Regions from separate parts of the Homo sapiens genome. Here region 2 is linked to region 1. Evidence: fine-mapped expression QTL. Tissue or cell type: whole blood. Region 1 holds a variant in brackets; the other region holds the start of a gene. All regions are shown on one strand. Distances are from middle to middle.

Region 1 (5,257 bases):
CTCTTGAACCCAGGAGGCAGAGGTTGCAGTGAGCCACTGTACTCCAGCCTGGGCAACAGAGCGAGACTCTGTCTCAAAAAACAAAACAAAACTGAAACAAAATAAAAACAAGAGTGTATTAGGGTTCTCTAGAGGGACAGAGCTAATAGAATATACGTATGTGTGAAAGTGAGTTTATTGAGGAGAACTGACTCACACGATCACAAGGTAAAGCCCCATGATAGGCTGTCTGCAAGTTGAAGAACAAGGAAGCCAGTAGTGGATCAGTCCGAGTCTCAAAACCTCAAAAGTAGGGAAGCCGACAGTGCAGCCTTCAGTCTGTGGCTGCAGGCCTGAGAGCCTCTGGCCAACCGCTAGTGTAAGTCCAAGAGTCCAAAAGCCAAAGAACTTGGAGTCTGATGTTCGACGGCAGAAAGCATCCAGCGCAGGAGAAAGATGAAAGTCGGAAGACTCAGCAAGTCAGCCCCTTCCACCTTCTTCTGCCTGCCTTATACTAGCCACGCTGGCAGTTGATTAGATAGTGCCCAACAAGATTGAGGGTGGGTTTGCCTTTCCCAGTCCACTGACTCAGATGTTAATCTCCTTTGGCAACACCCTCACAGACACACCCAGGAACAATACTTTGTGTACTTCAATCCAATCAAGTTGACACTAAATATTAGCCATCACTTCGGGAGGCCGAGGTGAGCAGATCACGAGGTCAAGAGATCGAGACGATTCTGGCCAACATGGTGAAACCCTGTCTCTACTAAAAGTACAAAAATTAGCTGGGCATGGTGGCGCTTGCCTGTAGTCCCAGCTACTTGGGAGGCTGAGGCAGGAGAATTGCTTGAAGCCGGGAGGCGGAGGTTGCAGTGAGCCAAGATCACGCCACTGCACTCCAGCCTGGCAACAGAGCAAGACTCCGTCTCAAAAAAAAAAAAAAAAAAAGCCATCACAACTGGCACTAGGATTGTGCCTTAACAGGTTAGATGGAAGGGTTAGCAGCCTTCCAAAAGTGACATGCCAGGTTGTGTATCCTTGACCAGTCTGGCTAAGCTCACCCCCAGTGGTGAGTGCTTCTCTAAGATCTGGGATCCTGATTTCTAGCAGCTAGATAGCGTGCGCTTTGTTGGGAACTGATGGAGAGGTTCGAAAGCAAGGCCTTCTGCCCCATATGGACACCGCTCTCCCAAACTCTGTCCAAGGCACTCTAAGTAGGCACTGTCCAGTGTTTTGGTGAGAAGGAAGACCTACTTTTCACTTCTTTTATCTGGACAGGTTAGCTGTAGGCTCCATCCTGAGCCTCCACCCCTCTAGGGCCCCACTCTAAGTCACCTCATTAGCATTGTCAAAAGATACAGTTATAACACATGGAGTTTTAAGATCTTAATTGGCTTTTATTTGAGATTCTAGAATTGGGCAACACTTCATTCTATAAAATGGAATGTTGTGATGAGCTGAGCAGAGGAGGTTGGCTTTATAGGCAGAAAAGTGCTGAAGAAAGCAGAAACAGAACAAAAAACAATTGGTCATTTCAAAGTTACTTTTGTTGTGTAGGTTAAAGCAGAGAAGACTTCCTTCCTTATCATGCTGGCTAAAATTGGATTATACAAAAGATGTTCCTACCACTCTTATCACTCAGGAAATTACAAGGGATTTGGGAGCAGTGTGTCAGGAACCAAGGACAAAGACCAAACATATTTCATATTATACCACAGCCTATAGGCCCTTTACAGAAAATGTTTGCCGATCCCTGCTTTAAATATTACCTATTACTTTAGGCAGTTTTGCTGTAGGTGCTTCTCTTATTCTCCAACTCATAACCTGGCCAGATTTCTAGTAGGCTATGCTTTTATATTTCCTGTGGCACATCTCTTCATCAGCAGTGTGCTTCAGAGTTAAAGTGGTTGAGTTAATGGGAGAAAAAGAAACAACCTTAGTTCCCACCCAATGAAAACACTTGGTTTTTTATTTTTATTTTTTATTGTACTTAATTTTAGAAACAGAGTCTTGCTTTGCTGCCCAGGCTGGAATGTAGTGGCTATTCACAGGTGCCATCACAGTGCACTACGGCCTTGAACTCCTGGCCACTGCACCTGGCTAACTTGATTATTTAAATCAGAAGACAGCAACTATGAGTTTATTACACTTTTAGCAGGGAGCTATAGAAGCAAGATTGCCTATACAGTTTTCTTTAGGCATTTACAAATAAATAAAGTAGCAATACAGAAGTCCCTCTCTGTTCAAGGGAATTTTTTTTTTTTTTTTTTTTTTGAGATGGAGTCTCGCTCTGTCACCCAGGCTGGAGTGCGGTGGCATGATCTCAGCTCATTGCAATCTCTGCCTCCTGTGTTTCAAGTGATTCTCATGCCTCAGCCTCCCAAGTACCTGGGACTCCAGGTGCACCCACCATACCTGGCTAATTTTTGTATTTTTAGTAGAGATGGGGTTTCACCATGTTGGCCAGACTGGTCTCAAACTCCTGACCACAAGTGATCTGCCCACCTCTGTTTCCCAAAG[TGC/C]TGGGATTACCTGTGTGAGCCATCTCGTCCAGCCTGAGGAACAGTTGGACAGGATGTAACCAAACCTTAAATTTTTTATACTCCTTTACCCCATAATTCCATTTTAAGGAATTTATTATAAGAAGATAACTGGAAGTACACACAAAAATGTTGCATTTTAATTTATGTGTTTCTGTATTTTCTAAGTTTCCTACAATGCACTTGTACTCTATAATCAGAAAAAAAAGTGTTAATACAGAAAAAATCAAACGAGTTCTTTCAAAATATAAGTTCTTGCATGTCATGTCCGCATCAGTATTATCTCACTACTCTTCCATCACATTCATATAGTGAGTATAAATGTGATTTACTCTTAACATGGTATTTGAAAATGTTAGTGTTACTCTGTAGTCCCTTTTTTTTGTTGTTTTTTTGTTTTTTTTGAGACGGAGTCTCATTCCATCACCCAGGCTGGGGTGCAGTGGTGCGATCTCAGCTCACTGCAACCTCTGCCTCCCAGGCTCAAGCGATTCTTCCTCTTCAGCCTCATGAGTAGCTGGGACTACAGGTGCGCGCCACCACCCCCAGCTAATTTTTGTATTTTTAGTAGAGATAAGGTTTCACCATATTGGCCAGGCTGGTCTCGAACTCCTCGTGATCCACCTGCCTCGGCCTGCCAAAGTGCTGGGATTACAGGCACGAGCCACTGCGCCCAGCCTACTCTGTAGTACTTTGTGAAGTTAATTAATGGGTGTGATTTAAATATCTTACTGAATTTCCCACCCTAGAAGACAGGGAAGGGGAAATAACTTTATTTTCATATATTATAGCTGTCAAAATACTGGAAGGAGAAAATAAAATAGATGGACTATCACTTTTTAGACAGTACTCCTTGTCTAGCCAAAGACTTATTTGGGGTGTGTGGGTTGGGAGTTGGAGTCATGGGTTTCAGACCTAGGCACTATCATGGTATAATTGTGTGAGGCACTTGGGTGATTAGAACCTCAGTTTCTTCACCCCCAGACTAGATCATAGGGCTGCTTTGTGGATCAAATAAGGATAATCATAAAAGCATTACAACACTGACTGTAAATTATAAAGATCAATTTTGAAGCTAGTTCAGTGGTTAAAAATTAGTTTAAGGCCAGGTACAGTAGCTCACGCCTGTAATTCCAGCACTTTGGGAGGCTGAGGCAGGTGGATCACGAGGTCAGGAGTTCAAGACCAGCCTGTCCAACATGGTGAAACCCCATCTCTACTAAAAATACAAAAATTAGCCGGATGTGGTGGCACGCAACTGGAATCCCAGCTACTCATGAGGCTGAGGCAGGAGAATGGCTTGAACCCGGGAGGTGGAGGTTGCAGTGAACCGAGATCACGCCACTGCACTCCAGCCTGGGTGACAAAGTGAAACTCCGTCTTTAAAAAAAATTAGTTTAAAGCAAGAAGTGAATGACAACTTTGTTTTCTTGTTCATCTTCAGGAAATCAGGCAACACCAAAAACAGCACCAGCCACCATGAGCACTCCCACAATACTGGTCGCAACAGCAGTCCATGCATATCGATAGTAAGTCGCTGAGAAGGAACACCCTCTGAAGTTTGGTGGAAGGGCGTGCAGTTAAGCTACTTTTTCTCGAAAAACCTCTGTTTGTTGCAAAACGGTTATTTAGCCCTTCCACGGACAAAATATCAGTAGAACTTTTAACATCTGAATTGGAGATTTCTGTGGTAAAACTTGAAAAGCCATTATCTTGTCTACTGTCTTTAGGGAGTGCTTGTACCCTCAACAGCTGTCAAATGCTCAAAGAAAGCCTCTCCACTGAGATAGCATGAATGATAGATATTTATATTTAAAGAGTAAGGGAATAGTATATGAGCTTTAAATTATAAACTGCTGGGCCGGGTGCGGTGGCGCACTCCTGTAATCCCAGCACTTTGGGAGGCCGAGGCAGAAGAATTGCTTGAACCTGGGAGGCAGAGGTTGCAGTGAGCCAAGATCATGTCACTGCACTCCAGCCTGGTGACAGAGCGAGACTCTGTCTCAAAAAAAAAAAAAAAAAAAAAAATTTTAAACCGCTCACCTGTGTCCCTGCCTAGAGGCTGAATGACTGTTGTTCCCACTTCTGTATGACAGAAAAGAAAGCTGGTTCTGCAGAATTTAGGGAAGTATTAATACTTGTTGTTTCTCTTCCTTTTATAGCACAAATGGTCAATATGTAAAGCAGGGCAAATTTGGTGCTGCAGTTCTGGGGAACCACACAGCCAGAGAGGTGAGAGTGCTCCCACATCTCATGTATATTCAGATGTCCCAAATAATACCAATGAGCTGGCTTTTATCTGGCTTGCCCGATGTCTTGTTTATCAGAAGATAAGGATGATTATTTGTATTGAATGTTAATTTATAACATCAAGCATATAGTAAATGATCACATTTTGCTTACTATTGTGCGTTAAAACAAATCCAACCATTCAAAATTGTTAAATTTGACCTTTGTGATATGATCCTAGCTTAAGAATTTGGGCATTTTTTTGTTTGTTTGTTGTTCAATTGTGGGGTGCGTGTGTACACACACATACACAAATACACACATATATATACACATACATATGTATATATAAGATAAAATTTGCCATTTAACCATTTTTAAGTGCATAATCCAGTGCCATTAATTGCATTCACAGTATTGATTGAGCAACCATCACTACTATCCATTTCCCAAACAGAAAGTGTAACCATTAAGCAATAACTCTACTTCTTCCTTTTTCCCAGCTG
Region 2 (5,241 bases), 67 kb before region 1:
CTGGATAATCTAGCAATAGTTTTGAAACCCACACCAAAATACAAGTGTGATAAAAAATGAGAGGTACAGTGGTGACGTTATGTTTAAAAACAGTATTAAAAGTTTAAAAAGTCACTAGGCTACAGTGCATGTGTTTAGAAAATGTGTGGGAGGATCAATAAGAAACCTGACAGATGTCCCTACTGCAGAGGAGTCTTCATTTTATGCCCTTTGGCATTGTCTGAATTTCTTAGGACAAATATGCATAATTTTATTTTTAAAATATAGTAGACCTCTCATTACTGACATGGAAAGATATCCTCAATGGTATATAAATGAAAAATGGGGGTTATACAACAATTTACGTATTGTGTTTTCATTTATGGAAAAAATTACATACTTTTTAGCTGTATTAAAATTCTCAGAAAGATATACAATCAATTAATTTTAAAAATACAGGATTTTCTACTTCACACATTTATACATTGATCTTTTAAAAGAAAATAACTTTTTTTTTTGAGACAGGGTCTCGCTCTGTTGTTCAGGCTGGAGTGCAGTGGCACAGTCATGACTCACTGCAGCCTTGAACCCCCACCTCAGAACCCCAATTAGCTGGGAATACAGGCACGTGTCACCATGCCCAGCTAATTTTCTACTTTTTGTAGAGATGGGGTATCACTATTTGCCCAGGCTGGTCTTGGATTCCTGGGCTCAAGCCAGACTCCCGCTTCTCAGCCTCCCAAAGTGCTGGGATTACAGGTGTGAGCCACCAGGCTTGGCCACTATTACTTTTATAATAAAAAAAGATAGCTCAGTCAGGTGCAGTGGCTCACGCCTGTAATCCCAGCACTTTGGGAGGCCGAGGTGGGCGGATCATTTGAGGTCAGGAGTTGGAGACCAGCCTGGGCAACATGGTGAAACCCAGTCTCTACTAAAAATACAAAAATTAGCTGGGTGTGGTGGCGGGCACCTGTAATCTCAGCTAATCGGGAGGCTGAGGCAGGAGAATCCCTTGAACACAAAAGGCAGAGGTTGCAGTGAGCCAAGGTTACGCCACTGCATTCCAGCCTGGGCAAGAGAGTGAGACCCTGTCACACACACACACACACACAAAAAGATTTCACTTTGGGTAAAAAATAATTACAAAACTTCAAAAGGGAGAATATCATGAACCACTCTAGCTGCAAACCAATGCCAGAACTATGTTAGATCTCCAGAAGACAAATGGAATCAATCTGAATCCAAATGTACACTGAATTTTTGATAAGACTGCTCACTCATAGAAGAAAAACTATATAACAGATTGTAAGAAAAAGGCTCTCTGCATGATAATAAGGGGGTAGGCAAAATACAGCCTTATAGCTGCAAGTTTAAGAATTGAAATTCTGCCGGGCACAGTGGCTCACACCTGTAATCCCAGCACTTTAGGAGGACGAGGCGGGCGGATCACAAGGTCAGGAGTTTGAGACCAGCCAGACCAACATGGTGAAACCCCATATCTACTAAATATACAAAAATTAGCCGGGCGTGGTGGTGTGCGCCTGTAATCCCAGCTACTCGGGAGGCTGAAGCAGGAGAACTGCTTGAACCCGGGAGGCGGAGGTTGCAGTGAGCCAAGATCGCACCACTGCACTCCAGCCTGGCGACAGAGCGAGACTCTGTTTAAAAAAAAAAAAATTGTAATTTTTTGACATTATAAAACTGTGGTATTTAAGTTTAGAAAGGTATTCATTACACAAAGAGGTAAAGATGGGCTCACAATTTGCATCTTACCAGAGGTTATATTAATATTTCCAGCTTCGATCCCTGCTTTAAGTCCGTCTTTCCCCAAAATCCCAGACTCTCCTTTGGCCAGACGCTCCCTCTCCTTCTCTTCCAAACTTCCATAATAGATGTGTGGTTTCTTCACGACCGGAGCAACTAAGTCGTCGGGTGCTTTAGTTTTGGTTGCCTGCTAAATCAAAGATCTGCATTAAACTAAGGTTTAATCTTGGCAATTTACCGGACTTCACCAGAGGATGAAGCTCACCCTGAGTTTCACAGTCCTGTTTCCTCTGTAATTGAAAGGACAAATTGGACACTACTTAAGACGCTCTTCATTGATTTGAGGAGGTGAAGGTAGGGTGAGGGTGTTTCAGTCCCTCACTTTGGTTGATGGGATTAATAAAACTAGTGAGGTTCTCTCGGGTATTTTCCTATGAAAGGTTTGCTCTGAAATCTGTTTACTTCATTCCGTTGGAAGTGTTCAATCTCGTGTTTTATGCTTCCCGGATTACTGCTTATCACTGGGGAAATACTAAGGATAGATGAAATAACCAACGCGGTGCTAAAGGATAACAAGTTACAACATTACAAGTGTATACATTTCAAACGTTCCTAGACGTGAGGTAGTAGGAGTTAGTAGGTCTCATTAAAATTCTGAGATCTGCCAAAGGCATAAACCTTGGCCAAGACACTTCCCTATTTCAGAGCACCGTTACTGGATGAGTCGGAAGAGATGCTTGCCCTTTGGGGCTGTAGTGGGAGAGGTGCAAATAAGCTACAGTCCACGAAAGCGCTTAGGGATCAGGAAAACGGTGGTCCGCTGTGTAGGACACCGCTGAGTCCCGCAGCCTTCCTCCTCAGCCCTCCACCGCCTTCTCCCGCTCCTTAACGGCCCCTTCCCGCAGAGATCCCCTTCCCCCTTAGCGCTCCCTGCCAGAGTGAGCTGGGATCCCGGGCTCTGTACCGTGGAAGAGGCTCGCGAGGAAGCCATGCTGGGCTCTGGAGCCGCGAGGCCCCAGCGAAACCCGAACACTCCCTTTCAGACCGTCCACCGCGCGCCCAGCAGAGGGGAAGTGCGTCACTGACAGGAAGTGCGTCACTGACAAGACGTGGGCCAAGAGGGGTCACCGCCCCCGGAGCGGCGCGGAGCATGATGGAAGTCGTAGTAGGAAATGGCGTCGTGGCATTGAGGGGCATCCCTCCTAGAACCTCCAGGAAAAGCTCGCGGAAGACGAGGTTCTGCGGAGAGAGAGGCTCCAAGCAGTCTGGGAAGTGTAGTCCAGTTGGCTTAGCAGTAGTTTCGTTGGGGGGGAGCCGAGGTTCCGGGAAGGGGCTAGGCCGGCTTGAAAAGAGGTAGGTGAGTCGACTCGCGCGGCTCGGGGCTGAACTCTGGAGCGAGTCAAGGGCTTCCGGGGTCCGCTGTGCCCCCCGGGCGTACGGGGGCGTTTACGTCTTCTTGGAGCCGAGGACCATGTTACCATAGAAACCCTTGCCTGGGCTCCGAGGTACAGGCCTGGAGCTAGGGGACGAGGACTGTTCTCCTCCATGGTCCGGAAGTCTTCCCAGGCTCCCCCTCTGAGCTTGATGGCTCGGCGGTGGATTTGGGCTGCGGCGGGAGATTAAGCTAGAAGAGCCCGCTAGTGCCAAAGTCAAATAAAGACCCGGCGGAGGAGCTTCGGCCTGATTTTGTTGATTTGTCTTCAGCCTGGTCTTTGTATCAGATTGAGAGTAAGATGATGGATAGGAAGGTGTCAGGTAACTCTGTACGTCTCTCTGCCCTGCTGGATGCTGGGGCATTAGAGACGAACAGGATAAGGTTTTTATCCCCACATGGGCGGTGGGAGATCCTCAAAATATTGACGTTTCCCTAGCTGGCCAGATCCTCATGCAACCCCCTAGAACAATTACAGCAATAATAGATGTTATTTATTGAACATTTATTAAATGCCAAATAATATTCCAAGAGCTTACTCTGTATTACGTTATTGACTTCCTACAACAGCAGAGTAGGATACAGATGAGGGAACTAAGGTCTAGTGAGAAATGAAACGAATTGTTCAGGATCGGTGGTGTAGTGGGATTAAAACCTGTGCCCTTTAACCTCTACAGCCAGCACTTTTAACTGTTAATCTATACTGCTCCCTAGTGGCCAGTTTTTTGCAGTTTGCAGAAAAGGTAAAATGTATAGATTTTTTTTTCCCCCTTTTAGGTATCCCTATCCCTCTCTTTCCCTCTTTGGAACTTTGGCTTTCTCTACCATTTGTCTGCATTGGAATCTGGTAGAAGATAATGCCTGATTTAGTACAAAGGAATTTGAAATGTAATGTGCCAGTGTTTTGTGTTGATAATATCACCTGTAGTATCCTAAGCTTCATGGGAGAAGGAACTATTTCTTCCTTTGTATACTTCACAGTCCTTAGTTTCATCCTAGATACGTGTAATAATTTGTATCTGTACATACTTTCAAGGAGTTTTCACTTCCATCATTTTCACTTAATGCTTATCATGTTGACCTTTATAATTTTTATAGGAGGCTAAAATTATTAACCAAACTGAACAGCTTGCTTCGATGACTTCTTTATGTGTGAAATAGGAATCATTTTGTCAACTTCACAGGGTTTTTGTGTTAAAATAAGAATGTAAAGAATGGGAATGGAAAAACAGCACGGTGCTCAAGAATGATCTCACCTTCTAGTCAACAAACATTTACTGACTGTTTTTATAGATACACTCTAGGGGATGCTGTGGAGAATATACAAATGATGCCATCAACAGATATTAAACTCAGTTGGGGGGTTGTGTTTTCTCAAAAACAAAACAAAACAAAATGGTTTTTGTTAACATAGTATTACCTTGGGATTTCAGGCTGTGGAATGCTCTCTTGAGCCTTTTTTTTTTTTTTTTTTTTTTTTTGAGTTGGGGTCTCATGGTGAGGTCATGGCTCACGGTGGCAACCTGAAACTCCTGGGCTCAAGTGATCCTTCCACCTCAGCCTCCTGAGTAGCTAGGACTACAGGTACACACTACCAGCCCAGCTATTTTTTTTACTTTTTTGTAGAGACAGGGTCTTGCTACGTTACCAAAGCTGTACTTGAGCCTCCTTGTGCATTCTTCTCTCTGCCTGACCTTCAGAAGTCAACTAAGACATCATTTTCTCCAGGAAGGCTTGCCTGACATCCTTGTCCACCCCACACTCAGCCCAGACTGGATTAGGTGCCTGTGTGATGCCAGTGCTAGTATCCTCATCAGGGTTCTCATTACATGATATCACAGTTTTCTCTTTGTTTTCCCCACAGATTATGACTGTACCTTTTAACTTTGTAGCTGGAACACAAGAAGTGTTTGTTTAATGAATGACGTACACATTTAAGATCTGTTTGGACGCGGAGGATAATCCTGTGAATTGGTGAGTTGGAGTTTTCCTGAGATTTAGCAAACTGATTTTAGCATTCAAGAGTGATCACAAATCTCTGACAATTCTCATGTAGGGTAGATTAA

Evidence for each region. PIP is the estimated chance that this variant, and not a neighbour inherited with it, causes the effect.
Region 2: it holds the start of CDC26, and the variant in region 1 is fine-mapped to the expression of CDC26 in whole blood (TOPMed, PIP above 0.99).

What each region holds. Positions count from the first base shown.
Region 1 is chr9:113,206,006-113,211,262 of GRCh38, reverse strand. FKBP15 (FKBP prolyl isomerase family member 15) reads left to right here. Exons shown (of 28, transcript NM_015258.2): 3 at 3,967-4,051; 4 at 4,685-4,754. Among named protein-coding and RNA genes, the nearest start is that of FKBP15, 13 kb to the left of the region's middle. The variant TGC/C (reference allele first, on the strand shown) is at 2,503.
Region 2 is chr9:113,273,237-113,278,477 of GRCh38, reverse strand. CDC26 (cell division cycle 26) reads left to right here and starts at 2,906. Exons shown (of 4, transcript NM_139286.4): 1 at 2,906-3,096; 2 at 5,040-5,149. PRPF4 (pre-mRNA splicing tri-snRNP complex factor PRPF4) reads right to left here and starts at 2,820. Exons shown (of 14, transcript NM_001244926.2): 1 at 2,708-2,820; 2 at 1,753-1,930. The coding sequence starts at 2,734. RefSeq lists enhancers at 2,833-3,172, 2,940-3,795.